4 separate regions of the Homo sapiens genome follow, and regions 2, 3 and 4 are each reported to be linked to region 1. The links are microRNA targets in miRTarBase. Many come from high-throughput screens and were not tested one by one. Region 1 holds a microRNA gene; each other region holds the end of a gene's coding sequence.
What was found. The annotated mature microRNA hsa-miR-1250-3p reads ACAUUUUCCAGCCCAUUCA and lies in region 1 at 3,283-3,301, shown strand. An mRNA with a match to its seed (bases 2 to 7 or 8) in the 3' UTR can be bound and repressed. Matches are read on the target gene's strand: a 7mer-m8 pairs with bases 2 to 8, a 7mer-A1 pairs with bases 2 to 7 and ends in A, and an 8mer does both.

Region 2: miRTarBase lists CBR1 as a target of hsa-miR-1250-3p. Seed matches in the 3' UTR shown: 7mer-A1 at 5,727-5,733.
Region 3: miRTarBase lists RRAGC as a target of hsa-miR-1250-3p. Seed matches in the 3' UTR shown: 7mer-m8 at 6,285-6,291.
Region 4: miRTarBase lists PPP2R1B as a target of hsa-miR-1250-3p. Seed matches in the 3' UTR shown: 7mer-A1 at 3,773-3,779.

Annotation. Positions count from the first base shown.
Region 1 is chr17:81,129,411-81,136,528 of GRCh38, reverse strand. It overlaps MIR1250 (microRNA 1250), which reads left to right and starts at 3,221; the gene lies at 3,221-3,333. AATK (apoptosis associated tyrosine kinase) reads left to right here. Exons shown (of 14, transcript NM_001080395.3): 2 at 2,028-2,161; 3 at 5,324-5,468. It overlaps LOC124904079 (a long non-coding RNA gene), which reads right to left. Exons shown (of 4, transcript XR_007065937.1): 1 at 6,908-7,118; 2 at 922-2,133; 3 at 608-772; 4 at 1-483.
Region 2 is chr21:36,071,597-36,078,714 of GRCh38, reverse strand. CBR1 (carbonyl reductase 1) reads right to left here. Exons shown (of 3, transcript NM_001757.4): 3 at 5,551-6,269. The coding sequence ends at 5,833. It overlaps CBR1-AS1 (CBR1 antisense RNA 1), which reads left to right. Exons shown (of 4, transcript NR_040084.1): 3 at 3,748-3,834. Among named protein-coding and RNA genes, the nearest start is that of CBR1, 5.1 kb to the right of the region's middle.
Region 3 is chr1:38,833,067-38,840,184 of GRCh38, forward strand. RRAGC (Ras related GTP binding C) reads right to left here. Exons shown (of 7, transcript NM_022157.4): 7 at 5,132-6,638. The coding sequence ends at 6,487. Among named protein-coding and RNA genes, the nearest start is that of RRAGC, 23 kb to the right of the region's middle.
Region 4 is chr11:111,735,159-111,742,276 of GRCh38, forward strand. It overlaps PPP2R1B (protein phosphatase 2 scaffold subunit Abeta), which reads right to left. Exons shown (of 15, transcript NM_002716.5): 14 at 6,895-6,986; 15 at 2,719-6,454. The coding sequence ends at 6,438. Among named protein-coding and RNA genes, the nearest start is that of PPP2R1B, 28 kb to the right of the region's middle. RefSeq lists an enhancer at 1-522.

The DNA of each region.
Region 1 (7,118 bases):
AGCCCAGGGTAGCTGAGGTGGGGTCCTGGAGGTGGGAAGGCTGAGGCCAGCTGCCTCCATTCGGGGGAGGACCAGGGAAGGGATGGGGCCATGGGAGGGGAGCCCAGGGTGGCCGAGGTTGGTTCCGAAGGGGAGGTTGAGGGGGAGGCTGAGGTCGGGCCTCCTGGGGCTGCTCTTTGCCCAGCAGGTGGCCTGTCCAGCCCCAGGGCTCTGCTGGCTCTGAGGACAGGAGGCCAGATCCTGGCCCCAAAAGGCCACAGATAGGTTCCTTCACTCATCCAGTGTGTCCCATGAGGGAAGGGCCCGCCAGGAGAGGGGCCAGGAGGGCATGGGCGAAGGTGTTAGAGGGGTGTGGACTGATGCCAGGCGGGCACCAGATGGAGCCTGGGAGATGGGCACCATGGCAACTTGCAGTTCCGAAGAGCGCTGGCTGCTTTGGAGGGCGGGGCCTGTTGAGTGCCTCGTGAGCCCCTGCCTGTGTTCCTGCCGTTCGGGTATGAGAACACAGCGGGGCTTACCCGGTGTGCAGGGTGTCCTTACACGCATGACACGCACGCCCGCACATCCTGGAAACCTCGCCTGGGATGACATCTGTTCACGGCCCTACCCGTTGGCTCGTCTCCACATGCGGCAGAGCTGGTTTCCTTCCCCGGTGACCCAGGTCTTGCTTTGCTGGCCGCCCCCTGCCTCCTTGTCCCCACGGCCCTGTCTGGTCCTCACTCCAAGCCGTCCTGGTTCCCTCTTCCTCGTGTGTGGGGAACAACCTGGAGACCTGAGCAGGAAGCCTAGGCTGCCCTCACTGTCTTCTAGCTCACGCCACCTCCAGGCAGCCTTCCCAGATGCCCCATTAGCCTGCAGCCCTGGCAGAGCATGCCAGGTGAGGTCAGCTGTGCCACCTCGGGCAGCCCTGCCCACACTGACCCTGTTTCTTGGCTCGTCCAGTGGGGTAGAGATGACAACACCTTTGGGGGTGTGCTGGGCCAGGAGATGGGGTGTTGAGGGGTGTTGGGAGCTGAGAAGTTGCAGGTGCTCAGTGGCAAAAGGCACTGGGGGTGGCCGGAAAATCTCCAGGGCCAAGTGGAGGGCAGCCGGACAGAAAGCTCCTAGGGAAGGGCATGGATTGGAGCTGGGTGCGGTGGGACGGGGCAGGCCCAGGGGATAGAGCCAGCGGGTCAGTGTGCCCTCCCCTGCCCAGGGGACACCAAGGCTGGCCCCCACCATGCCATCCTGTGGGCAGCAGATGGACCGAGCTTCCTCAAAGCCTGGCTCAGCTCAGGTGTCCTGATTTGGAAGCCGGGCTCAGCTCAATACTCCGAAGTTGGGAGGGATGCTGTACTGTCAGTTCCCCTCTGGGATGAGGGGCTCCATGGACCAGCAGCTGCAGAACGGGGTTTCCCCATGGTTCCCAGGACAGAAGCAGCACCAGAGGGGCCTGGCAGTGGGTTTGGCAAGGGGACGGATTCGAGGCAGCAGGTGGCACACGGGAGCCCTGCTGCCTGGCAGAGGCAGCACCACCTTCTCAGGGACAGTGAGGTCCCCGCACCTCAGAGGCTGGAAGGGCCTTGAGCCCCCGCTGTCCAGAGCCTGGTGTGTGGCCAGCAGATAGCAGCCAGCAACATGGTCTCCCGTGTTTGACAGAGTCCATGTTCCCTTCCCAGCCCCAGAGGGGCAAGGTGGGGTGACTGGGATCTGGGAGGGAGATGGGGGTCCCCCTGTAGCCCCTGAGACCCTGACCTCTCAGGGGTATCTGAACCCCAGAATTGGGAACTGGGCAGGCTCTGGTCACTCTGCCAACCCTATGTCCCCCTGGCGAAGCCAGGGTGGTGTCCAGTGGCTGGCTGCAGGACTGCAGGCTCTGGCCACCTCCTCGCCACACTGTGAGGTGTGGGGTCTGGGGTGAGAGGTCAGGGTGCTGAGGCCCAGCCTGGAATGCAGCAAGTCCAGGTGGGGCTGTGGAGCCCAGAGCAGGGGCAGGGGCCTGGCCGGCCCTCAGCCATGGCCACTCTCACCACACTGCTCTCCCGCAGACGGCGCCCCGCTCAGCGAGCTGTCCTGGCCATCCTCCCTCGCCGTGGTGGCTGTGTCTTTCTCCGGGCTCTTCGCCGTCATCGTCCTCATGCTGGCCTGCCTGTGCTGTAAGAAGGGCGGTATCGGGTTCAAGGTGAGGCCTGGGGGCCGCGGGAGCTGTCGTGGGATCCCGCAGGCAAGGCCTGTAGCGTCCACTTGACCCTGAGCTTCCCTCCTTCCTGGGGCCATCAAGGTGGCTGCTGGGTGGCCGTAGTTGCTGTGGGGCCACCTGGGGACCACGTGGACCCTGGCCCAGGGACTCCATAGCTCCTCCTCAGGGACCTGCCCCAGCTTCCTCGACTTTGAGGCCCTCTGTGGGGGGCGTGGTCTGACGCTCCCACTCCAGCCTGGGGTTGGGCCCGAGCACTCACGGAGGCTGAGGACAGCCTTGCAGGGGGCGTCGGGGGCTCTGGAGCTGGTGTGGGAGGGGGCTTGCCTCCCTAGAGGCCCGACTCCTGGTGGAGGAGCTGCCTCTGCAAGGGGCTCTCACGTCCCTCCGAATTCAATCTGCAAAGGGGAGTCCGGGCTGCCCAGACAAGCTTCCCGGCACAGGGACCTTCTTGCCAGTTGGAGTCACCTTGCGCGGGGTATCTTCTGCCTTCTGGAGGGGACGATGTGTGATGCTAGAGCCCAGCCTGCTGGTTAGGGAGCCCCGCCAAGGGTGAGGCCTGGCCTCACTAGGCTGCCCCTCTGGAGGCCAAGGCCCCTGGCCAAGGACAGGTGCCAAGCACTGCTCCTCCCCCTGCAAACCCCCAGCCCACCTCCAGCTGTAACTCTGAGCAGCAGGGAGGGCCAGGCAGAAGGAACCCCGGCCAGCATCGCCTCCCCCTCCCAGAGTCTCCATGGGTCCCATTCCTGCTGATGAGCAAATGACACCCTGGCCTGGACCTCTGGTGGTTCACACGCCCACGGGGGTCAGCCCCACCCCTGGGCCAGAGGTCAGATTCCTACGCCAGGAGAAGTCAGGGAGGGAGGAGGGTGGGAGGAGGCATTCTGCAGCGCGCACAGCACCCTGTCTGTATCTCAGGGTGCCTTCCTACTAAGTGACCCATGACTCAGCTGGCGCCACCCCCATTTGGGAGACAGTCCCAGAGTCCTCCCTGCCCCTGGTATGTCATGACGCAGAATGGGCCAAGGAGCTGGCTCTGCCCACCTGTCCCGCTGGCCTGGCAGGTGACGGTGCTGGATGTGGCCTTTTTGCCTTTTCTAAAGGCCACATTTTCCAGCCCATTCAACCTTCCAGAGCCCTCTGAAGTGGCCACAGGCCCCATCAACCAGTGAGGAGCTGCGTGCCTGGGGGGCAAAGCTGTGGCCCCAGGCTGTGGGGTCTGCACTCCTGCCCAGAGCCCCCACCCTGCTCTGGGATGTACCCCTGACCCGCTGGCACCAGGGGCCAGGCCAGGCCGCGCAGGCGCCTTCCTGGGGATCCCGAGGCCAGAGCCTCAAGGTCTTGGCGGGAGCAGGAGTGGAGGTGGGGCCTGGGTGGGACGAGTGGGGCTATTGTATAAGTGGCCCCTCCTTGGGGCACTGTAAGAACAAGGCCCCAAACAAGGGCTGGCCATAGCTCCTCCTCCTGCGCCCTCCTCACCTCCTTGGGAACATGGTGCCCGGAACATTCCAGCACCAGTGTGCCCCTGGGAAGTCCTGCCTCCACACTGGGCTCCCTCCTGGGATTTGGGGACCTGCGCTGGGCTCCCTGGTGGGGAGCTGTGCTGAGGGAAGGGGCTGGGCAGGCCCCCAATGCTGACCCTGTGCTACCTGATTGCACGCTGTATCGGCAGGACCCGGCTGGCCCCCGGGCAGCAGGTAATGCCTGGAGCCCGGGCCCGACCCCAGGGAGAGACAGCATCTGTGTCCTGGGCCCCTCTACAAAGCCCAGATGGGTGGGGCCAGGCCGGGGCTGGGATTGGAGGGCCCAAGAGGGGGCTTCTGGGGTGGTCTTCTGGGTCCCGGGGAGGGGAAGTTGCCCACGCAGCACCTGCGTCCCCCATCCCTGAGTGGCTGTGTGCTCCGAAAGGGCAGGCTGGGCCTGGCCTGCGGGAATACCGACAGAGCCACCTGCCCCTCTCTTTGCAGCCCAGGGAAGGGAGGCGTCCCCAGGGTCACACGTCGTACTTGAGGAGCCCAGGCCTCCCCTCCCACTGCACCTGCCTGTCCTCGGACTCACCAGCCCGGGTGCTGGCCAGCATCCAGCTGGAAGTCCCTTGACTCCTCTGAGCCTCAGCTTCCCCACCAGGGCACTGGGGGTTGTGAGGAAGGACAGAAAGGCTGTACCAAGTGCTCAGGGATTGGGGCTGTCATTGTGTGCCTGGAGCAATTGCTTTCAGCTGGGCCCAGGACTTTGGAGACTTTGGCTCTCAGCGCAGGAATGTGCCCTGGACTTGGGGGTGGGGTATCCCCTATACAGGTGCAGCCTCTACATTTCAAAATAGCAGCCTGGCAGGGAGTGGCCCAGCCCTAGGCTGCACGGGGCCAGGCTCTTAAGGAGTTCTGGGAGCTCCGGAGGTGGTGTGGCCACCAGGTGAAGGTCCAAGGCTGCTGGGGCAGATGGCGGTGGCAGGTGGGCTGCCCAGGGTAAAGGTGGCCGGTTGGCTCTGGGCTCCCAGACATCCAGGAATGCTCCTTGTCCCGGCAGGGGTGGGGGCACTTAATTGCTTCTCCCACAGGACTGTGGGGCAGGGGGTGATGGAATTCCTGTCCCCGAAGCTGCGCCATGGGAGGGTGGGACCCCAGGCACAGCCCGGGGTGAGGGGCTGCTCGGGATGTGGGTGGCTGAGAGGTGCTGGGGGCTGATTCTGGATGGGCAGGGCCAGCTGGCCTGAGTGCCCTCACCTCTGTCCCTTGGTTCCCTGCCTCTAGACCCTCAGGCCCCAAGGTGGGGCTCAGCCTGGGCTGCCCGCCAGGGAGGGATGGGGGAACTGAGGCCAGGCTGAGGCGCTGGTGCCTACAGCTCATCGCGCCCTTTCTGGAGTCTGAGATGGGTCCTCTTGGCTCTGGGATCTGCCTCTGGCCCCTCATGGAACAACTGAGCCTCTGGTCGGGGGCGTGGGGGTCAGCAAGAGGAGACAGATGGAAGGGCAGTTAGCAGGGGTGCTGGGCCATTGGCCTGCAGGGGCGGTGGCTCCAACTCTGGGCCGAGCACCCCCTCCTGCCCTGCCCTGGGAGCTCGGCCCTGGAAGAAAGGGGCCTTTCCAGGCCCAGCCACACCCTTCCTTGACCTGCGAGAAGCCCCGCTCATGCCCGGCCCGGCCCGCAGGAGTTTGAGAATGCGGAGGGGGACGAGTACGCAGCCGACCTGGCGCAGGGCTCCCCGGCCACGGCAGCACAGAACGGGCCCGACGTGTACGTCCTGCCACTCACGGAGGTCTCCTTGCCCATGGCCAAGCAGCCTGGGCGCTCAGGTGAGGGCTGGGTGGGGAGATGGGGTGGCCTCCCTCCGGGGCCCAGGTGCTGGGCGTTGGGTGTGATCTGGGGAGACCGGAAGACTCAGCTCTGGAGTGGGGGCAGCACAGGGCTGGGAGTGGCCTGTGGGGTAGACGCAGTGTGCAGCCCTGGACTCCCTGTGGCTGCGTCACAGGCCGCACTGTGGGGCCAAAGGTGCATGTACCTCTTTCTCCTGGGCCTGGGGGCCGGCCAGGGGTTGGCAGGGTCCAGGACAGCCCTCGGCCTCCAGCCTCCCCTGCCCAAGGGGCTGCTATGCACAGGGACAGGGGTGGGCACGGGGCAGGGGTGGGCACTGGGGCAGGGGTGCGGGCTCTCTGGTCCTGGACATGGCCATGTGCTGGGGGCAGGGGCTCTTCTGCAGTCCAGGGATGCTTGACCCCAGATTCCTGCCCCCTTGAGCGCCAGCCCTTCAGGGACACGGGTTCCATTGTGCATGGCAGGAGGAGGGGCGCTGGTGGGGCCCGTGTGGGCGGGTGGTGAATTAGCCTTTCACTCAGGCTGCGAGGAGGGGCCGAGGGGTGGGGCTGACCCAGGAGTGCAGGTGCAGGCAGGGCCTCAGCCACAGCCTCATCTGCCCCCATCCTAGGGTCCTAGGCCGACCACTCACATGGGGCGGACGTGCTGGGGAGTTTGGGGGTGAATGGCCAGGCTTCAGGACCTCCCAGTTCTGTCTTGGAGCCTAGGTGGTGGGTGCGGGTCCCTCCAGAGCTATCAGATCTCAAGCCCCCTCCCAGGAAGCTTCCAGCCTGAGGCTTCCCCCATCACTGCCCACCCCCAGCTCCTCTGGGAACACAGAGGCAGGAGGGGTATCAGGCCAGTGGGAGGGGCCCCTGCCAGCCCTGTTGGGGCTCTGTTGGCACCAGGGCCTGTTACTGCGGTGCCATGCAGGCCACCTCACCTGCTCTGAGCCGTGCCTGGCTGGACCCTGAGAGCTGGCTATGAACTGTGCCTGGCTGGGCCCTGAGAGCCTAGCCTTCATCGTGGGCTGAGAGGCCCAAGGCACTGGTCTGGGACCTAGAGAGGGCCCCCAGCCCCCAGCTTTGGAGCCAAGGCCTCAACGCCTGTCCTACTCTGCCCCATCTCCTGGAGGACAGGTTCCCAGTTCGGCAGGAATCAGGGCTGGCACTTGAGCTCGAGTACATCTGTGGGCGGGCGCGGAGGACTGCAGCCACCCACTCAGAGCGTGAGGCCCTCGGACCTTCCCGGATGGCTGTGGGGGTCCCTGAGCCCTGTGCTGACCCTGCTGGGAGCTGCCAGGGACCATCCGAGGGGGTACTGCCCTTGGGTCCAGGGGCAGGTGTGTGCCTGGCCCCCGAAGATTCTCAGAGCCACCTCTGGAGGATTGCTGTGGGGACTGGGGTTGGCGAACAGGAGCCCGAAAGAAGGCACTGGTTACCTGTCTCTCTACTTTTGCAGCTCTGGTTTCAGTTTTCTGGGGGAGGAATGTGCTTCTAGGGAGGAGAGAGATTGGGGTGAGGTCAGAAAAGTAGCCCCAGAGGTCAGCGGGGAGAAACCTGGGCAATGGCCCCACCCGCTGGGGACCGCAGAGAAGGACGGCTGCCTGCTGCCTCCGGCAGTGCCCAGGGCCTCTGAACTGTCTCAGCACC
Region 2 (7,118 bases), not on the chromosome of region 1:
TAGAGAGAAATCTTTCCTTGACTCTTCCAGCTTTTGTGGGCTGCAGGCTTTCCTTGGCTTGGGGCTACGGCCACATCCCTCTAATCAACCTGTCTTCATATGCCTGCCTTGTCTCTCTGTTTTGTAAAAAGACACTTGTCATTGATTTAGGGCCCACCCAGATAATCCAGGATGAGCTCAGCTTGAAATCCTTAATTACATTTGCAAAAATCTTTCTTCCAAAGAAAATATTCATAGATTCTGACACATGGACATATCTTCTTGGCAGCCAGCCTTCAATCTATTACTGTTCCCAAAAATGGGAATTCTGGCATAGATGACTGAAAGTTATAGAATTGTGGTGATTACAGAAAAGTTAGGGACTGACTTTCTGCAATAGCTAGTGTGACCCTAAATCTCCTGTGTTGTCTTTTAGTGTCAGGACTGGGCAGTTCCGAATGGTAAATCCTTGTGAGGGATGGACTTCCTGGGATAGTCCATATCCTAAGAAATGTACCTTGTTCTGCCAAAATTATACTTCACAGGGTATAGACACCTTCTCACCTATATTGGGATTATGGAGATCCGAGTAAGTAGCCCAGCTAATGGAAGGCATGGATTCTGACCCCGTGTCATGAACAACTCCTCTTGTACCTCCTTGTGCCTCCGTGTGTCCCACCAGATGCTGCTTTGTTTGCAGCCAAAGTGCCCAGTCCTGTTTATCTGAGACTAACACCTCGTACACATTATAAGTGGTATTGGGACCTGCGTGTACAGAGACGTCAATTCTCGGAATTGTTGCAGCCTGAAGGTGCCTTATGGCTGCAGGCCGGCATGGTTGCTCTGGGCTGTACAGCAGAGCTAAGTTCTGCATTCCAGTGCTGCAACTCGAGGGGCTGAATGTTCCAGAAAGTTTCCTAATGCCCCCACTCCTGGGTCTACCCTTTCCATGAGCTGTGTATTGGGTCATGCCAAGACACATCCCTCTTTTGATCCTAACAGAGCCAAGCAATGGTTTGCAGGGCTAAGAGGTCGGGCTCTCTGAAAGCAAAACTGGATGGTGATGGGTCAGTAGGGGGCCTGAGACAGGTGACAGTTGAATTAAAACTATTTTGGGAGAATCCCAAAGGGAGGAAAACATGTGCCAAGTAATTTTCTTGGATGTGCACCCATCACCCACTGCAAAATGCAGATGTTTGCTTTATCTTAAGATGCAATGAAATTATTTACACACTAAGTGCTTCTCAGGACATACATCCCCTTTCTTAAGAGAAACTGAAACTTAAGAATTAGAGAAAAAAGATGTCCTGTAATTAGACTTCCAGGCATGGGCAGGCAATCTCTGTGTGGTTCCTAGTATGCCCTCAAATGAGAGAGAATGTTTATGAAGCTCCTACTATGCCGTAAGCCATTTATTAGAATGTTTTATCTAATTGTTACATAACCCGTTTGCTAAAAGTGTCTGCATTTTTGTTTTATCCAAAGTCACAGTTAATATGTAAAATATATGGCATCTCCCCATGAAATGTGTACCCACAAAACAAAGGAATTGTCAAAGGTGTGTCAAGGTATAGACGGGCAATTGGATTCCTTCATTCGTCTTCTTCACTGTAACCCACGTGTTTGATCTGAGTGTGTTTGATTAGCGACTCTGAGATTAGCAGAGAGCCACCATCTCATCATGACTCTGCTTTACTCAAGCAGATCTGGCTGAACTGCCTGTGCCCTGCCACCGAGTCCACTTTCTCTATCAAAGTCAAGTTAATAGCTGGGCACCTGCTGGGTGTGGTTCCCTTTATGCCCCAACCAATCTTTCTTTCTTTCCAAAGAGTATTTGAAACTTCACTTTACAGACATAGAGCTATTCAGGTTTTCCATTTCTTCTTCAGTGAGCTTAGTGTTTTTCTAAATATTAATAAATGTGTACATTTTATGTAAGTTGTTAATTCCAATGATTTGAGGTTGTTAGTAAAATGCTCTTTTTTTTTTTAGACAGTCTTACTCTGTTGCCCAGGCTGGAGTGCAGTGGCATGATCTCGGTTCACTGCAATCTCCACCTGGGTTCAAGCGATTCTCCTGCCTCAGCCTCCAGAGTAGCTGGGATTACAGGTGTCTGCCACAATGTCTGGCTAGTTTTTGTATTTCTAGTAGAGATGGGGTTTCACCCTGTTGGCCCGCTGGGCTTGAACTCCTGACCTCAGGTGATCCACCTGCCTCGGCTTCCCAAAGAGCTGGGATTTTAGGTGTGAGCCACTGTGCCCAACCCCTTATTATCTTCTTATTAATCATAATGATGCTACTTCTCATTCCTGACATTGGTAATCTGTGTCTTTCATTTTTTTTTTCTTTTTCTGATCTCTCTGGCTAGAGGTTTAGCACTTTTTGTTTTTCCTCAAGGAACCGGCTTTTGGCTTCATTGATTTTTTTTTTTACCTTTATTGCTCTCTTCTGATTATACTAATTTTTGTTCTGATCTTTATTTCCTTTCATCTGCTCATTTGGGGTTTCATTTGCTCTTATTCTAGTTTCTTACCATGGAAGCTGAGGTCATTGTTTGAGACAGTTCTTTTCTAGTGTAGGCATTACGTAGTATACATTTCCCTCGAAGTACCGCTTTAGTGCCATCCCACAAACATTGATATGTTGTTTTCAGTTTCATTCAGTTCAAAATACTTTTGAATTTAACTTTCAATATCTTTAAAAAATTTTGTTGTTGTTGTTTTCTTAACTTTTGATATCTTTTCGACTAAGGGTGTTTGAAAGTGTATTTTGTTGGTTTCCAACTATTTGGGGATTTTCTAGCCATCTTACTATTGATTTCTAACTTAATTCCAGTGTGGTCGGAGAATATACTTTGTGTGACTCAACTCCTTAGTTTTAAAAGCTGGGAGAGATATTAAAGCATGTTTTTATGCAATGGTAATCTGAGAGGTGAATTTGGTGAAGGAAAGAAAGGGAATAATTACAAGAACAAAATGTTTGGGAGGGCAATAATGGACGAACCAGGACTCTGGTGGGGGTGCTGCCTGGGAAGCAGTGTGCCTCTTCTTGTAACGGAAAGGGGGGCAGGGTGTGCTGTCTGGTTGCAGGTATGTTGAACGACTCTCCTCAGGGGCATCTATTTCTTTTTTAGGGAACAGATTTGAGGACATCCTCCAGCACGATCAGTCTGGGAGATATGCGGAAAGAATAATCATCTTACAGAGTAGGAGAGTGAATTTACTAGGGGAAAAGACAACACTGGCTAGGAGAATTGCTTGTCTGTTTGGGATTGGGGTGGGAACATAAAAGAGTACAGTCAGCCTCTTGTTTCCTTTCTCCCTAGCAACATCATCTGTTAAGAGCTGCTAGAGCAGGCTGGCATGGTTATTAAGCATGGGGATGGGTGTTTTGCCAGACTCACACAACAGAGTGAAGGGTGCTTGCAAGGCAAGACTCGTAGCATTGAACTATGGCCCTGTTCATTCTTTGAGATATTTTGCATCTCTTTCTTAATTGTAGGTAACAGAGGTGCAAGTGCTGTCCTGTCTAGTGGTGACTGAATTGACGTCCTCCTCCCTGTAAAAACACCAGTTTTGTCGTCATTTGCAATTCAGCTCAACATTTGTTGATTCCATATAATCTGTTAGCTTTTCCTTTTAGCTTTTCCTTTGAACCAGTTATAACATTTCCCTGGTTCCCTTATGAGTAAAATACATTTTTTTGACTATTATTTTTACATCTGTATGACAGTCATGATTTTACCTTTTTCTGAAAATTGTATTTTAGCACCATGTACCTATCACCTGGTATAAGAAAGAAATCCTTAGCAATAAAGACGGAACCACGTATGTCCTCCTCCCCTCACCCTCAGAGGTAAGCAGGTACTTGAATTTGGAACAATGCTTTCTCTAAATCTCTTAAAGAAGTTAGGTGTTATTTTTAAGGTATTAAGGGAAAAATATCTTTGCAATACAGGTACAAATTTCTAAACTAGCACTTGAGAATACCAGTTTTGCTGCAGACGTGATTGTTTTCTGGTGTCTGTGTACAAAAACTAGGAAGAAATGAACAGCCCTACTGAAAGGTGAAACTTGTCAAAGTAAACCTCACTTTTAACCTAAGGGACTAGGCTGGGTGCAGTGGCTCATGTCTGTAATCCCAGTACTTTGGGAGGCCGAGGCGGGTGGATCACTTGAGGCCAGAAGTTCGAGATCAGCTTGGCCAACATGGCGAAACCCTGTCTCTACTAAAAATACAAAAGTTAGCCATGCATGGTGGCGGGCGCCTGTAATCCCAGCTACTCAGGAGGCTGAGGCAGGAGAATCACTTGAACCCAGGAGGCAGAGGTTGCACTGAACCAAGATTGAGACTCTGTCTCAATAAACAAACAAACAAACAAACAAATAAATAAATAAATAAATAAAATAAGGGACTCTTCCGAAGCAGTTTGGAGAATTAAAAAATAAATAGATAAAAATAAAATAAGGGGCCTCTCCTTCTTTTCACGGGTGATCGCTTTTTGTTTCTGTAAGCCTTAATTCTCACTGGTGAAGTGTGAGAGATCACAACACTGTGATTCTGTGGAAGAAACAGAATGGCCTGGGCATTTACTGGGTGTTAGACAGTAAACACACACTTCTCATTACCAGCAGGGACAGCGTCAGGCCCATTTACAGGAACTAATGACAGCAGGGGCTGTTCTCAACACTATTTTTTTTTTTTTTTTTGAGATGAAGTCTCACTCTGTCGCCCAGGCTGGAGTGCAGTAGTGCAATCTTGGCTCACTGCAACCTCCACCCCCTGGGTTCAAGCGATTCTCCTGCCTCAGCCTCCTGAGTAGCTGGGATTACAGGCGCCCACCATCACACCCAGCTAATTTGTTCTCAACACTTTATCTCAATACATATAATCCTATGACTGTCATCCCAATTTGACAGTTGAGGAAACAGAGACAAAGCCAGATACAGTATTCTGCCTGAGGTCAGGAATTCAGTGGGCAGAGCCAGAAGTTTCCACTGCCAACCCCCAGGTTTTGAAAGCTTTCAACAAACAGAAAAGTTGTTTTTTTTTTGCCTTACCTGTTCATCAGTCTTTGTATACTTTGCTGAAACACATGTTGTACACCTGGGGCATATGTTGTACACCTCATGACACTTCATCCCTACATAAATAACACATTCCTATGGAGATCTGATAGGTCCCTCATCAGCTCGGTGTTTCACACAAGTGCACACTCACGTTTCACACATAGCAACTGGTTGTTTTTCCCCAATGACTTTGGCTTTTTTAAAGAGACCAGGTCAGCTGCCTTTGCCGTTGTGGTACTATTTGTTTTCCTAGAGGCTGGGAAGGGCCAGAGCCAGCTATGCTCACAGGCTTACATGCTGTCAGCTTTTGTTACATAATGTGGATTTGGGGAGTTCCAATGCATTGTTTGACCTACAACATTGAAAATATTGACTAACTGGCTCTTTCTTTACTTTCTGGGTTTGCTCACCCCCAAGTTGTACTGTCCCTTCCCTTGACCTTTTAGGTTGATTGTACTTGAGACAAAGCTTATTTAGCATCTAAACAATCTGTACAAATGGACACTTATAAAGAACCATTTATTCATCTGTTGATTTTCATTCATTATTTTCATCAATTACAATTTTTCCTCTCCTGCATCAGAGGAAATCACAAAAGACCTGACAGATTTACGTAGTCAACTGAGTGCGTAGGTTGCTCAATTAGTAGTACATTAGTGAGTGCTAATTGATAAGAGATCATTTTTTTTCTTATATAAGGATATTTATGACATTGTAAATGCCCTTTGGACCAACTCAGGACAAGGTACAAAATGGGGCCCATGGATGGAGCTGTGAGCCCAGCTCACCACTGTTCAACTCTCTTCTCTGAAACAAATTGTCCATGGGGACCCTCAGCATCTGGGGGCAAAAGGGCCAAGTACACAGGGGTCTCTGCACCTTCTTCTGGGCTCTTGGTGGCCTTGGGTCCCGCCATGTCAGTTCTCACCCACCCTGGGCAGCAGGCATTCAGGAGGATCTTGTCCCCTTTCCTCTGCTCACTCAGTTTCCTGGCGTGGATCCTGGACAGAACGGTGACGCCAATCTTCGTCACCCCGTATGCGCTGCTGGGCCAGCCCTCCTTCTGGTGCACTCCCTTCTTTGTATCCTCCACAAACTTGTTCATGAGCCCCACCAGCTCCTCCTCAGTGATGGTCTCACTGCGGAACTTCTGCTGCAGCTCTGGGCTGCAGCTTTTAAGGGCTCTGACGCTCATGATGCTAGATACGTTCACCACTCTCCCTAAGATACACCACAAAGCATTATGTAGAAAGGTGTGCAACAATCCCGTAGAGAGGTGAATGCCAAATTTGCAGGGATTTTGGAGCAGAAAATTTTCATATGAGAGACAGTTACTGGTATGAGTTCTAAGAGGAATACGCATAGAAAGTGTGGTGGTAGTTGCATGAAGAAGTTCATTCCTGCCTTCGAATTTTGGCTGAGTAGAGTCAGGTGAGATTTGGAAGAGCTGCCCTTTGAGGTCCTGGTGAACCAGAGCCTTAGAAGTAGCACAACTTAACAGGACGACAGGACAGGGAAACAGGATAAAAGCTGAGAGTAAGCTGTACATGCAAGTACCCAACTCGAAGCCACACATTTAAATTTTTCTAAAAGTGGCTGCTTAATTGCTGTGTTATTTAATGGGTGGGTTCATCTCCTGTCCCATTACTTAGGGTAACTATCACAGCAGTTTACAACCAAAGACATGTGATAGTCATGTCCAGCACCTTCAGCACGTTGAAGGGGAGTTAAAATGGGCCCAGAGTTAAGCAGCGGCAGATTATGGACATCTCTGTGAACCATGCTAAGGGCTTGGACTTTCCTCCTGAAGGATTTTGGGAGAGGCATGACCATGCAGACAGTACGCAGGATGCTGGGAAAGGAAAAGAGGAAAAGACTCAAGACCAGAGGTGCCTTGTGAGGGTTTGCAATTGTCCAGAGGGACAGGTGAGGGCCTGCTGTAGAGCTGCAATGAGACGGATTCAGGAGGAACTCAGTGGGCACAACTCCTAGGACCTAGTAAATGATTATGAGGGGTGGGGCATGGTGACCTGCAGGATCCTGGTGGGTGGGTGGTGGGGTCTGTGTCCC
Region 3 (7,118 bases), not on the chromosome of region 1:
AACAAATTAGAGACCTTAATTTCATTTCAACAAATAAGAGACATTTCAGTGGTGAGCATTCCTCCCTTTCTACCTGGTTTCCTTCTCACTGCATGAATCATTCTAACTTCTGTTCCAGCTGTCTTCCTTCCATTGACTGACCAAGGCCCTCCCTAAGGCCCAGTTCTGCCTCCCACCCCACCCTGCTCCCACTCAGTATGCCAATTCGATCTCTAGCTCAGCCCTCTTCCCCTTCATCCAGCCTCAACACTCTAGTAGTCCAGAGAACATCTCCATGGAGATCCTGTGGCCCCTGACCCTAATGAGTTTCTTTTTGCCAGACAGCCTGCCTGCCTTTCTCAATTGTCCCGTTCCCATCAATAGACTGCCACAGGGGTCATGTGAGGAACTAGTCCAAGGAGCCTCCGTGCTAGACATCTAGCCAGGAAGAACTACAGTGCAGTAGAAGAAAAGAATCCTCCAAGCATGGAAATGGCCAATAGCTCCCTTTCCAAAGTCAAGACAGATATTCGAGAAATGTTTGGTAGGGTTATAAGCGTTATTTCTCAGTTCATCTTCCAAAGCTGTAGAGGCAGTACATTTTCTGGGAAAAAGCCTCAGTACAGAACATGCCAGCACTGCTTTTCAGAGAAAGATAGGCCCTGTCTGGAGCCTCATTACCTGGAACACAAAGTTTGCATGCCAATTTGCATGGAGATAAGAGAGAGGCCATGGAAAGAAAGGAAGGAATATTCACAATTTGCTAAAATGTGTGTGCCAGCACCTCTTTTTTAAAGAAAAGCAAAAAGAATATTGTAGAAAATTAATATTCCATTTCTCTAAGTCAAGTTCCTGTCTGTTCGGCAGGTTACTTTGTAATAAACCAAATTAATTGTCTCCCACATGCCTTCTAATATTTTATCAGTCCAGGCTGGGTGTGGTGGCTCACGCCTGTAATCCCAGCACTCTGGGAGGCCGAGGCGAGCAGATCACTTGAAGTTAAGAGTTCGAGACCAGCCTGGCCAACATGGTGAAACCCCATCTCTACTAAAAGCACAAAACATTAGCCAGGCCTGGTGGTGCACGCCTGTAATCCCAGCTACTCAGAAGGCTGAGGCAGGAGAACTACTTGAATCCAGGAGGTGGAGGTTGCAGTGAGCCGAGATCACGCCACTGCACTCCAGCCTGGGCAACAGAGTGAGACTCCATCTCAAAACAAAACACACAATAACAAATATATATATTTGATCAGTTCAAAAGATGCATTTTAAAGTGTAAGAATCTTAAAGTGGAAGTTGCAGCACTTTGCGGGCAACACGTTGGTAGTAACTGGCATTTTCAAGTGTGGGGAGGAACAACTAGTTTCCTGCCATTCAGTTCCTCATTATAACAGTCCTTTGCAATTTTCTCAATTATATTTTAAACAGGTCTGAAGATGCACTGGTGTATCTAGTTCTTTTTACACTAAAATTTGTCTTTGCAGAGCAAAGTCACAGCTGGGGATTGTGAAGCAATTACATGGCTCTAGAAGAAAGAAAAACAAGCTGGGAGCAATGACTCACACCTGTAATCCCAGCACTTTGGGAAGCTGAGGCAGTGGAGGATTGCCTGATCCCAGGAGTCTGAGACCAGCCTGGGCAACATGGAGAGACCCTCATCTCTACATTAAAAAGAAAATTAGCCAGGCATGGTGGTGCATGCCTGTAGTCCCAGCTATTCGGGAGGCTGAGGCAGGAGGATCGCTTGAGCCTGGGAGGTTGAGGTCGCAGGGAGCTATGATCGTGCCACTGCACTCCAGCCTGTATGACAGAGCAAGACCTTGTCTCAAAAAAAAAAAAAAAAGGAAAAATAAGTACCCATGGAAGGATAAGGTTCTGCAGCCTTTTCCTTTGCCATATTTTATCTCTCAAGCATAAGTGTGAAATAATTTCAACAAACCTCATTTGACACAAAGAAAAGTGGTGAAAACAGATATTTTAATTCAAATATGTGGCATTTCTTTCCATGGAGTCTTGAAGACCACACACATTTACAACAGATGGATTAGAAGAGGAAGCAAGAAGTTCTGCCTGCTATAGGAATGTGGCTACAGCTGTCTTAAGGCCCTTTTGTAACTAGTAATACATAAAGCAAATGATGTTAATGACCTTCGTTTTACCCAACCCCTCACTAAAAAGTGGAAATCATCAACTGCTCCACTTCCAATAAGATGTCTCAAATCAGTCCTGAATGTTATCCTAGGGAAAATACTTCAGGAATTTTTTGGATCTCTAAGTTAGGTGTGCACTTAGGTGATACGGGCAATACAAACTTTCAGGACAGAGCACACATGCAGAAGCCAGAAAGCAAGAAGCTGTGTTTAGATAATACAACACTGCCACCTAGAGGCCATACACTAAGGACTTGGACACCATCACCAAACAGGCTGAAAAGGTAGACAAGCTGCCTGTGCTTCGCAGCACATCTGGCTTAAATGAGTAAAGATACTGAGGAAATGTTACAGAGTAGTTAAATATGCTTCCTGCTCACTACCTACAAAGACAGGTGTTGAACTAGCCATCCAAGAAACCAGTTTGGTGATGGTTGTATTAAGATACTTGGAAAACAGTGTAAAAATCATACTTCCAATCTCATGAAAACATTTCAAAACTGTGAATTTATTACACACTGATTGAATGAATATGCATTTCTTTAATGTGTCAAATAAACCTAGGAACATGGGATATAAACCAAGGTAAACAGGCTTCCTTATTGCAGGTCTTCTCAGAACCTTTCATATTTGACTGTATGTAGAAAATCTCCAAAGAGAGACTACAGATTGCAAGTTTCCAAAACTTAACTATAGAATCCTTTTGTTGTTGTTGTTGTTTTCTTTCTTTCAAAACACACCAGTGAGCAAACTCGCCCTCCCTACTAGGAAAGGAAGGTCGAGTGGTAGTTTGCGGCTGCAGGTTATGGAATCAAACTGCATGGGTTCCCATTCTAACTCTACCACTTTACAATTGAGCCGTTCTGTATCTATTTCCCCTTCTGTAACATAGGAATATAACACCTACTTCCCAAGGAGTTGTGAAGATTACAAGGTAATACACGTAAACCACCTAAAATAATTAGTGGTGGTTGGCTTTCCCTTCAAGTCCTTCTTGGATGTTATTTGTATCCAAAGTATCCTAATGTACCGTTCCGGGAAGTTACTATTAACAAATAACACTCACCTGGCACGGTGGCTCATGCCTGTAATCCCAGCACTTTGGGAGGCCGAGGCAGGTGGATCACCTGAGGTCGGGAGTTCAAGACCAGCCTGGCCAAAATGGAGAAACCCCATCTCTACCGAAAAAATACAAAATTAGCCGGGTGTGGTGGCGCATGCCTGTAATCCCAGCTACTCAGGAGCCTGAGGCAGGAGAATCGCTTGAATCCGGGAGGTGGATGTTGCGGTGAGCCAAGATTGCGCCATTGCACTCCAGCCGCCTGGGTGACAAGAGCGAAATTTTGTCTCAAAAAAAAAAAAAAAAAAAAAACCTCTCCAGTTATGCCCAGCTGCTGTCCACATTCCCCTTACAGACTATGTTCCTTTGGGACCCCCAAGAGGGACAGGGGGAGCATTTAAACTAACTAGCTTACTTACTAGCTTAGATGGAAAACAGTGGTACTAATAATCTCTTTTGAATAACTGGAAGGGCTTTCAGCATTTGCAAAACAAAGGATAGAGATCCTTACCAAAGTCCAAAATTCACACACAGTGCTTTCTCCAACAATGCTTGATTTTATCTTTTAAATCATTTCTCCACACAGAACTCAAGATGTAGAAGGTAAATTAACTCCCAAATACCTCCAGCATTCTATATTGAGATATTATATACATGCATATATGTATGTGTGTGTATATATGAATGTGAATGGGAGAGGTGGTGGTATGTGAAATAGCTAAAATACCTTGCTGCTTAAGACTTTAAGGTATTTTTTAACCATCTGTCCTAGTTCTCTTTGAAGTAGACTGGTAGAGATCAACATCCACTGGGATGCAAAACATTTCAAGCAAAACCCTGATCATTTTATTCTCCGTTTTCTTCATCCTGAGTTGTCTCCTTTCACATTTACTTTCTATTTCACAATTAAAGACTTCTCCTTAATCACTGACTGAATTTATAATTTTCAGTAACAGGAAAACATAACATTTATTGGGCATCTATGTACCACATGCATCTTGAAATATTCTCTCCATTTAACCAATGGGAGCCTAAGGCCGGAGGCTGCAAGTAAAGGCATGCCACGCTGGGCTGCCAGGCCTGGAGGACAAGCCCTGTTTTGCCACTAATTAGATCTATGATGAGGCTGGCCACCCTTAGTGTACCCTCAACAGTGCCAGTTCACACCTGCTGCTCAGGCATCCTTACTAATGGCATCCCTTCCACTCTCAACAGTATCTGGAATTTAAGTTATACAGTCTTCCTAGCTACAGCCTCAACAAGGCTCCTTATCCCTCTGCACCTGTTTCCAAAATCTGAAAAAGAAGACAGGATTAGATAGTTTCACAAGAGTTTTTTCAAGCTGTTTCTGTGATTTCCATTTCAGAATTAAAACAGCTTCTAAAGTAGTCCAATTACAAAATTTAAAGATCTTTCAATCTGTCTTCCTCCCACTGATAAACTAATGTCTATTTTTCTCTGATTAGTTTAGACCCAACCTGTTTGTATAGACAAACAATTATTTAACTGACATTTAAGAGTGAGTCAATGAGTATGTCAGCAACTGGAGGAAACAGAAAACAAGCTGGAATCGGTACAATTGTTTAAGTGTGTTTTACTTCACTCATCTCCTCACTCCTTCTTAGGTTGGATTAACACATTAATGATGCCAGGACCAGGATACTCCCCACCATGTGTGAGATTTGTGTATATGAAACACCCAACCAAAAACATTTTCACCTGAGCTTAGATTTACTACCCTAGAGCAGAAATGGGCCAGGGGAGATACCTAGACACAAGGCCATGAAATTCCCACATCGGGATAGAACCTGAAGCTCTGACACATAAGAAACATTAACCACAGGAAGCAGCAAAAGAAAAAGAAATGGATGAGAAAACGGCAAAGTGGGACAACCCAACGTTCCGCCACCACCCTCCATACCTCAGGCAAGGAGAAACGCTGATTTTGGAGTAAATACATTTATTGATACCCATTTCATATATAGTTCAATGAAATAATCTATAAATATAAAAAGCATTTTTCTTTTGGATATCACCATGGTCCATGTAAATACTCAAGTCAGAATCACCTGCAGGAAGCACTCCAAGTCACACTGTTAGCTTTACAGACCTGAATATACATATTGCATTAAACAGTGGCACTTATGTACTCAAGTGGTCCAGTGGCTTTGGAATATATGTCTACTGGGCATGTGGAATAGAAATAATGTGTTAGGTTTAAATCAATGGAAAGGGTATCAACCATCAACAAAAGCAACAATTATGAATTCATATCCTAGGCAAAGAAAGTACCACAGTTGACACTTGGTGTCAGAATACTAGAGACAAAGTATGTAAAACAATGCCTGTTGCAGCACCACGTGCTCACTCCAACTCCCAGTGGACAGTCCCCCAATGCCTTAGGGTCACTCGTGGTCAACCAAATGCAATCAAGAAGCTCGATAGCTTAGAATAAAAGGTCTGTAGAGGCTGATATCAAGATTAAAGTAAGCTAAACATTTCAGTGACACAATGAGTTTCTCCCCTAGAAGGGGACTGTGGGAAAACTTTTAATTCCCTTTGTTACACTGAGCATGATCATTTATCTAATGCAGAAGAAAGAACCCAGACATCTGGTACTCAGAACATAGGTGCAAAAATTTTCTTCCATTTCAAAGTTTTTTCAATACTTCCGAGGGAACTAATGCAACCACCGTTGAGCCTTGCTCTCCACCTGATGCAGCATAAAATTTTCTCTCATTTCTTCAATATAGGAATGTCTTGCTGCAGACTATGTGTCTTCCGAGTTAGCAAGCAAATGCATTTAAAAGGTCTTAGTTGTGCAATGTCCAAAACTGAAATCTGAGAGGCAGTGTTAGAACTTAAGCAAGGCAGAATTTTTAGAGTCTACTCAAATGAAAGCCTAAGTGAAGCATATAAAAATTCAGTCTTTTCTATTATTTTCAACTGGAATTGATGGCAACATTCCCTGGTAAGGATGGGTAACTGGTGTTATCTCCAGGTCCAAAATATCCCAACTACTTAAAGGGGACCCAAAAGAGGAGAAACACACACTTGAGTTCTGTGGTCTCCAGAATTTTTTTTTTTTTTTTTTGCCATTTTCAAAAAAGATATAGTAGCTTCAGTTGTACACCACCAGTTGAAGGGGTTTTCATCCAAATGAGAAACTCTACCCCTTGTCTCTAGTGGAACAGGCACCAGATTCCCACAAGCAGCAGCTCCCATGTCCTGTAGCACGTGGCATCCGACCCTGGAGTGAAGAGTAAGCTGGCACAGAGCCCCGACGCTGGGATTCAGACTAGATGGCGTTTCGTGGCGTGCCATTGTGTGTCAGCGCTTTCAGACTGGAGGCACTAGTCTGGTGACCACAGCTCCTGTGAGAAGTCACACCCACCTCAAAAACCTCATGAATAGCTTTTCGGAAACAGTGGAAGTTGTAGTCTATTAAACCTGCAGGAAGGAAAAAGAAAAGAATGCCTCCTGAATTGTCAATTGTGAAATTTTATATTTGGGTTTGCAGCCAAAAATAACTCGGATAAACACTGGTTGGAAATTCTTAAGCCTCCAAACTAGATAGCAACTTCTTCAATCGTAAGAACAGCTGGTCATCGGTCAGGTGCAGTGGCTCACGCCTGTAACCCCAGCACTTTGGGAGGCCGAGGCGGGCAGATCACAAGGTCAGGAGATCAAGACCATCCTGGCTAACACGGTGAAACCCCGTCTCTACTAAAAATACAAAAAAAATTAGCCGGGCATGGTGGCGGGCACCTGTAGTACCAGCTACTCAGGAGGCTGAGGCAAGAGAATGGCGTGAACCTGGGAGGCAAAGCTTGCAGTGAGCCAAGATTGCACCATTGCATTCCAGCCTGGGTGACAGAGCGAGACTCCAACTCAAAAAAAAAAAAAAAAAAAGAACAGCTGGTCATCATA
Region 4 (7,118 bases), not on the chromosome of region 1:
GGGTCAGTGTGTGTACAGGACAGACTGTGTGCAGAGAAAAGGAAGAGGAGGAGGGTGGGCGCAGTCAGGCAGTGTCTGTAGCCATTATTTATGGATGCTTCACTTGATTTTAGTCTCCAAACCTGGGCTCGGCATGGAGACTGAATGTCCCTCACAGCTGCTCCTTCCTGCAATAACAAGACTGACATCACTGTTGTCAGGGAAATGGTGTTTTGATTAAAATCATGTGACAGCTACTTGGTGATTCAATAAACAAATCCCCTGTTAACCCCTGCCTGACAAGGCCCGTCAGCAGCTTCAGCGGGGGCACCCTGTGTCCCGTCCAGGAGTGAGCCGCTGCCGGACCCGCGGCAGCAAGGTGTGGGAGGTGACCCTCGCTGCTCCCTGGCAGATCCTGCCTGGGTGGACACATGTGACATCCAACACAGAGGCACCTCCACAGACTTCAAGGGTGCCAAGGAGGCGCTCTTCACCAAGGGAGACTGGCTCTCGCCCTTTCCCTTTTCTCTTCAAGTGGCGGGCCCAGCCCCAGGGATGTCCAATGGCTCCCTGAGGGCCCTGAGGCTGGCTGAGAACTGACAGTTCCCAGGGCTCTCAACAGCAGCGCGCTCACGCTCACCCCATTCGGACAGATTGGCAAGTCCACTACGCACCCTAGACAGTGAGGGGTTAAGAACAATTTCTGGTTGCAATTGGATGACTTCCTGGATCACTCACTTGGCTGCTGGCCCCTGACACACAGGGCTCTGCCTGGCAACAGCCAATTCCCTTTCCATCTCACCCTCGGGTCATTTTCCTTAAGTGAAACAAATGCATGGAAGGCTCCCTGAGTCATGGGGCGGGGGATTTTTCTGAGTTAAATGAACTGAAGCCTCAGAGGCCTAGCACCACTGGGCCTCCTTTCCTGGAAAAAAGATTCCCAAATAGACATGCCAGGGGTTGGAGGAGATTCATGAGGGACCAAAAAACAATGATAGCACCTACCACCTAGGGTGGGTGAGGATGACATGAGATTTGAAGTGCCTGACAAGGTGCTGCAGTGACCAAGGCTCGAGTAACGGCAACTTATTCTCAGTAACTCCTCGGCTAGCAGAGGCAGCCCGGGCCCTGTCAGAGCTGAGCAGGTCAGCCATGGGAGGGCCGCCTCAATGATCCACACTCAGATCGGGTCATACCACGCATTCATGGCATGAGCAGCTGGCTCTGAATTTGTAGGAAGACGTAACCCCTTTCTTCCCAAAGAAGTCTGTGGTTTAGGCCTAAAAAATGTGTAACTGTCACTCCCACTCCTTCAGCCAAGCTCTCCTCCCTGAGGCCCAGTTCTGTGAAGACGACATGGACTCCAAGGGCTGGCCACCCCTGGAATCCAACTGGACAGTGGTCACCCAGCCCTTCCTCTCACTGTGCGGCCACTGCAGGAACGGCTGGAGCTGCCCACGGACAAGTGTGCAGCCCCTCAGGAAGGCAAGAATGTTCTAAGATGAGTGACTGCGATTCTGGACCTCAACAAAAGGCAAAAAACGTTTTCATGGTTTCGGTTCACATAAAATGAAAAGCCATGTGACTTAAAAGGCAGCCTTTTTGATGTTACTTCATTGAATTTTCACTAAGCGAACCTACTAGAATGGGTGTGAGAATGTCAGATTTTTCCCCATGAACTAAACGCAGTCTGGCATCCGCACGAGGCAGCCAAGCCCTGCTGCTCTCCTTTTCTGAATGTATCTGTAAGCCACAAATCGCCCTCCTAATGAATGGCCCTGGGGCAGTGGCTGGCACCCACTGACTGCTGAACTGGGGCTTTTCACACCATTTCCACACAGAGTGGCATCCAATGGGGCTTGTAGAACATCTGAGCTGTTACAGAGAAACTTGCAACTATTTTTATCTTGAATGGAAATAACTGAGAGGAATTATGGCAAGTCACTTCTATATTATGTGAGGAAAGTGGGAACAGCCCCTTTTTACAAGCAATTCTTCACCAAACCCCACTGGTGTCCTCTGTATGGGCCTCGCTGTTGGACTGGGAGGTGATAGGAGATGGGCCTCAAGCTACAAGAGTGACAGCTCTGGCCGGCGACCCACCTCTCAGAAAGCATTCCCAGAATGAAGTAAGCCAGCAACAGGCTTTAACCATCTACTCCCGGCCCTTAAAATTGGACTCTTCCCCTGGGGACAAAGTGAGAGGTGCTGCTTCTCCGCCTACCCTGTGGCAGCTCCCTGCACACCATGCCACCCTGGCTGCCCGCAGCCCTGAGGGCAGGACTTGACCCCAGGCTTCCGGGCACTTACCTTCCCCATGTCCTCTCCAGGCACTGTGGGTCTTGGGAAGTGGTTCTTGTCAGCCCGAGGGACACTGGGTTCTCCACTGTCCTTCACAGGAAATTCTAGCTTCCTCAGCCTTTGTGCCACCACTAGAGACACAGACAGTGGCGCTGTAACTGTCCCTGACCAGGGCACATCCCTCCCAAGCCCACCTGTGCTTCCCAGCCAGGATGCCCTCAGTTGTGCCAGCAGAGTTGGGTGTCCAGCAGCAGCCTACAAGTATATGGGGCACTGGGCAGAGAAAGCTGGGGCAGCCCAGGGTCGTGCTGAGGTGCCTTTCCCTCGGGGCCCTGGAAAGCGCCACCCCATCGGGCCTTTTGGTGTCCACCTGGCTGTTCCCCACATCCTGGTCACTGATGGTCTCCAGAGCCCCAACCACAGGAAAGACCTGGCTCCTTTCAGAACTCATATCAGTTTAAGAGAACAACTCTGGAGACAGAAATGGCTTGGCTTTCCGACGCAATGAGTAATTAAACTCTATTCGTCCTCCGGAAGATTTCCATCCCAACTGAACGTTATGTAATTTCCTGGAAACAGCAGGCTCGTGGAGGCAAACGGGGGACAGTGAGACTATTCTAGGTACAGAGGACTGGAGGGAGACATGCGAGGGAAGAGGAAAGAGGAGAGTAAGGAACTGGATGGAAACAGGAATACTGGAGAATCAAAGGGAAACAGTTACATCACATCAGACTGCAGTCACCTCAGCTGCTAAACCAGGAGAACACTGGGCAACAGGGCCTCTCCCTCTACAGTTTCATATCCAAGCAGTGGAGAAAAATAAGAAGCTTTACGATAAGAGTGTCACCATTTTTAAAAGTCAGAGGAATTTAAGTAAAAGGCAAGAGGACAGAACAAGCACCTGACCTGTTTGGCCACCCTGCCCTGCCATCGCCACAGGGACAGAGCCAATGTGACGTCTAAGGGCAAGCCCCAGCCTTTCAGTTTAGTGACAACACAACAGTTAACAAAGGAACAAAAGTGCACCAGGTTAACCGCCGGGTCAGGAAGGACAGGCTTGCTTCCCTGGAAGTCTACGCAAGCAACCTGAATGCCTGGACAAGCCAGCTCAAAGGTCAGGCTGCCGTCTCTGTTGAGTCAGGACAAGTTGTCTGGCAAAGACCCCTGGGGCTCTGCATCACAGTGGCTGAGCTGTGGTATTTCTGTGAGCTGAGGGCAGCCCGTTATTTCAACAAGACCTCGTTAGAAACCACATATTCACCTGCCTTCCTTCTTATGAAACAAGATGCATCCTCAGGTTCACATCTTCTTGGTAGCACAGAGAGAGAAACAAGACCTGGTCTCTTAAACCTGTGAGGGGTAAACCCCACACAAATTACAGAGAGAAACACCAAGGTGAATTCCACTGTTGCTGAGACATTTTTATTGGCATAGGTTATATGTTTGTGTGTGTGTGTGTGTGTGTGTGTGTGTGTGTGTGTGTGTGTCTGCTTCATTTTTCTAATCAAACAAACAACTGATGTAAGCTGCCAAGGATGAAAAACAACATTACATGTCTGAAGCAATCAGACAAATCCACACAGAACTGTAGTCTAAGCCAGGGGACCAGAAAAGGGCCACATAAAGCTTGTTTCCTGAAAGCAGGAAAATCTTTCTGTCAGTGGGAGAATAAGACACAGTCTGGTTCTTTTGATTATTTGTTCCATGCACACATTGGAGGATATTTTAGAAATTCATCCATTGAACACATTTTTATTGAGCACCTATTATGTGCACCAGACACTGTTCCAGGCACTGGCGATACAGTAGAAGATAAAACAGACAAAAATACCAGCCTTACAGAGCTCCTAAAGCCTATATTCCAGTGAAATCAAGATAGGAGAACTTTTCCCTTAAGTTTAAGGTAGTTAAAAAAAAAAATAGGAGAACTAATTCATGGAGAACATGGCCAAGTTATGAGCCAAAGCACAATTCCTCTGAAGAGTACCAAAACAAATTCTCTCTCTATTGCTTAAGTCAGAAGGAAACAATGAAACCCCTGAGGGGTCACCACAAAAGACAGAGGCCCCGCTGAACCCCCGACCCATGCTTGAGAAAGCCAGGGCCCACTCTCCCTCTCTCAAACAGTTTTAGGGTAGAGAAGTCAATGCTTAGGGCTCCTCACTGGGAGACACAAGGGCATTTTAAAAGTCTGTCCCCAAAACAATGGCATTTCCAACCAGAGTAAAGCAATGGTTCCAGTGCAAATCTGCTTCATGAAGACAAATGTCTCTCAAATATGAAATTCAATGAAGAAGAACATAACTTGCAGGTAACAAAAAATAAAGACTCATGAAACTAAAATTAAAATGTTTACAGAATAATAGCATAAGATATTAAAATGAGAATATAGAAAAAGATTTGTGCTTAGGAAAATACTTAATTCTTGGCCCAAAGTCATAAAATAGAAACTTACTATAAGGTAATTTGGCAGTTTAAAATGCAGACAGATAACCTCTGATTTACAATTTCTATTTTTCGAATGTAGGACAAATTTTAAAGTATTTAGTAAAACTTGGTTTTATGTAACAAATATACAAAGTCTTAGAGGAGTCTTTGGGCCTTCACTAAACAGAACAGGACTTGTTAGATTTAAAAGAGGTTGTGAACAAAATCAACAATTCAAAAACCAAAAGGGTAACAAGCAAACCTCATAGCAAGATGCACTGAGAGAAAAATAAACTATGGGAAAACCCCCTTAACCAAAAGTCATGAGACAAGGTGAGTTTGATTATGTGAAAAATAGTTGTTTTTTTTTGAGATGGACTCTCGCTCTATGGCCCAGGCTAGAGTGCAGTGGCGCGATCTCGGCTCAGTGCAACCTCTACCTCCCAGGTTCAAGCAATTCTCCTGCCTCAGCCTCCTGAGTAGCTGGGACTACAGGTGTGTGCCACCACGCCCAGCTAACTTTTTTGTATTTTTAGTAGAGATGGGGTTTCACCATGTTGGTCAGGCTGATCTCGAATTCTTGACCTCAAATGATCCCAAATAGGTGCTTTTTAAAAAGGGCTTTAATACTGTTTAAGTAGTTCAAATAGGCTTCCTCACTATTAATTTGCTTCAGTAAACTCTTCAGCTTAACTCATTATCTTAAATTTCAGAATTAATGAGGTTTTACTGTAAAAGTAGAAAAGCAAACACTTCAAATGATAAGACTCCAGTATCACCCATACTAAAAACTTAGCAATAAAACTGCAGTTTGAAAAGCTACTGTACAATGCAGCAAGGACTAGGTGTCAATACTGCTGGAAGCAGAGCCAGGTAAAGAACAGGAAATCTGCACAGTATTATCCCTGTGGTTCTTAGACTCATTCGAAATACAGAACTGCAATCTCACAATGAAACAAACATACTGCTTATTAGGAGGCACTACAGTTAAAGCTTTTTAGAAAAGAGAGAGAAGTATTTTTAAATGTAGGCACAGTGGTGAGCTGTTCAAATTCAGTTAGGCGTCAACATCACACATTAGCAGCAAGATGCAGCCACACTTCAGGTTTCTGAATGACATGAGTACAGACAAAATTGAGCAAATAAAAACCAAAACAACCACTACATTAACCCTGAGCTTCCACATTCCCCTTTCACATGAGACTAATGCAGACCATCATAATTCAGGAAAATGTGGCTTTCATTACGGTCAAATCTCAACATGTCTCCCGAAGAGTTTATAAAATAAGTTATTCTAAACATGTACATTTAGCTTTGGAATGATGGAGAGACACAGAGATATATGTAAACGTCAAGAGAATCACTCCACTCCACGTCTGGGTCCACACCCTTCCAGGCTTTGTCTGGAACATTATGTGGCTGGTGCCTGATTCCACAGTGAGGATGCAGGAGCCCAGGTGGTGATGGATAAAGCATTAGGAGACAATCAAGTGTCAGGAATTGGTCAATAAGAACGGCTTAAATAATGATTTAACAAGGAAGACGAGTAAAAAACAATCCCATTTCATCTTTAGAAAGAATTAAGTCACTAAATGATTTCTTCTAAGTTGTTGCCATTTGCTTGGATGAGATCTTGAAGGTTTTCCATTCTTTCTCCACCCAGTTAAGAACACATTGACTAGAAATTTGTGACAAGAATCTAGTAAAGGCCTTTTCCCTCCTGCTCCTCATTATGCCAATGCAAGAACTGGAAAATTCCAAACAAAATCAGGTTAGTGGTACAGAAAGTTCACGAACGATCTATGTGAATATTAAGCACAATAACAATGATCCAAACGTATCAAACTAACAACTTCTCACTGTGGTTACTGTCTTTACTCAGCCAGGCTAATCAGAAGTGAAACTTTAAAAACTGGTTAAATTCCAAACGAAAAACTATTCTTACCAGTGAGAATCGTATTTCCTACCCAGTCCTACATGTAACTAAGAAAAATAGCCTGCTCACTTATGAGAAAATGGTGGGCCAAGAGGGTTCTAATCAGAGAGACACCAGCATTCCAGGAACTTACTACCCTCCCTGTTTCCCATAATACTTATCATCCTACCCACTTAACACCTCTCACATAATAGAGATAAATCCCAGTTAACCAAGGCATAAGCTGCAAGGCAAAAGAAGGAAATACATACCACTTATAGCTTCCTGTGCAAAGTATTTGACATCCATGTCTTCATCTTGACCTAACTTCTGTAGTACTGGCTTCACTTCTCCCTGTAAAGCACTGACATTCAAAAGTATTATCTGTGAAAGACAGTCTAATGGGCCATAGAAATCCTTTTTGGTGTATATGGTTAATGGTAATTGTTAAAATTTAAAGTAAAAAAATAAAGACATTTATAAACTTGACAAATAC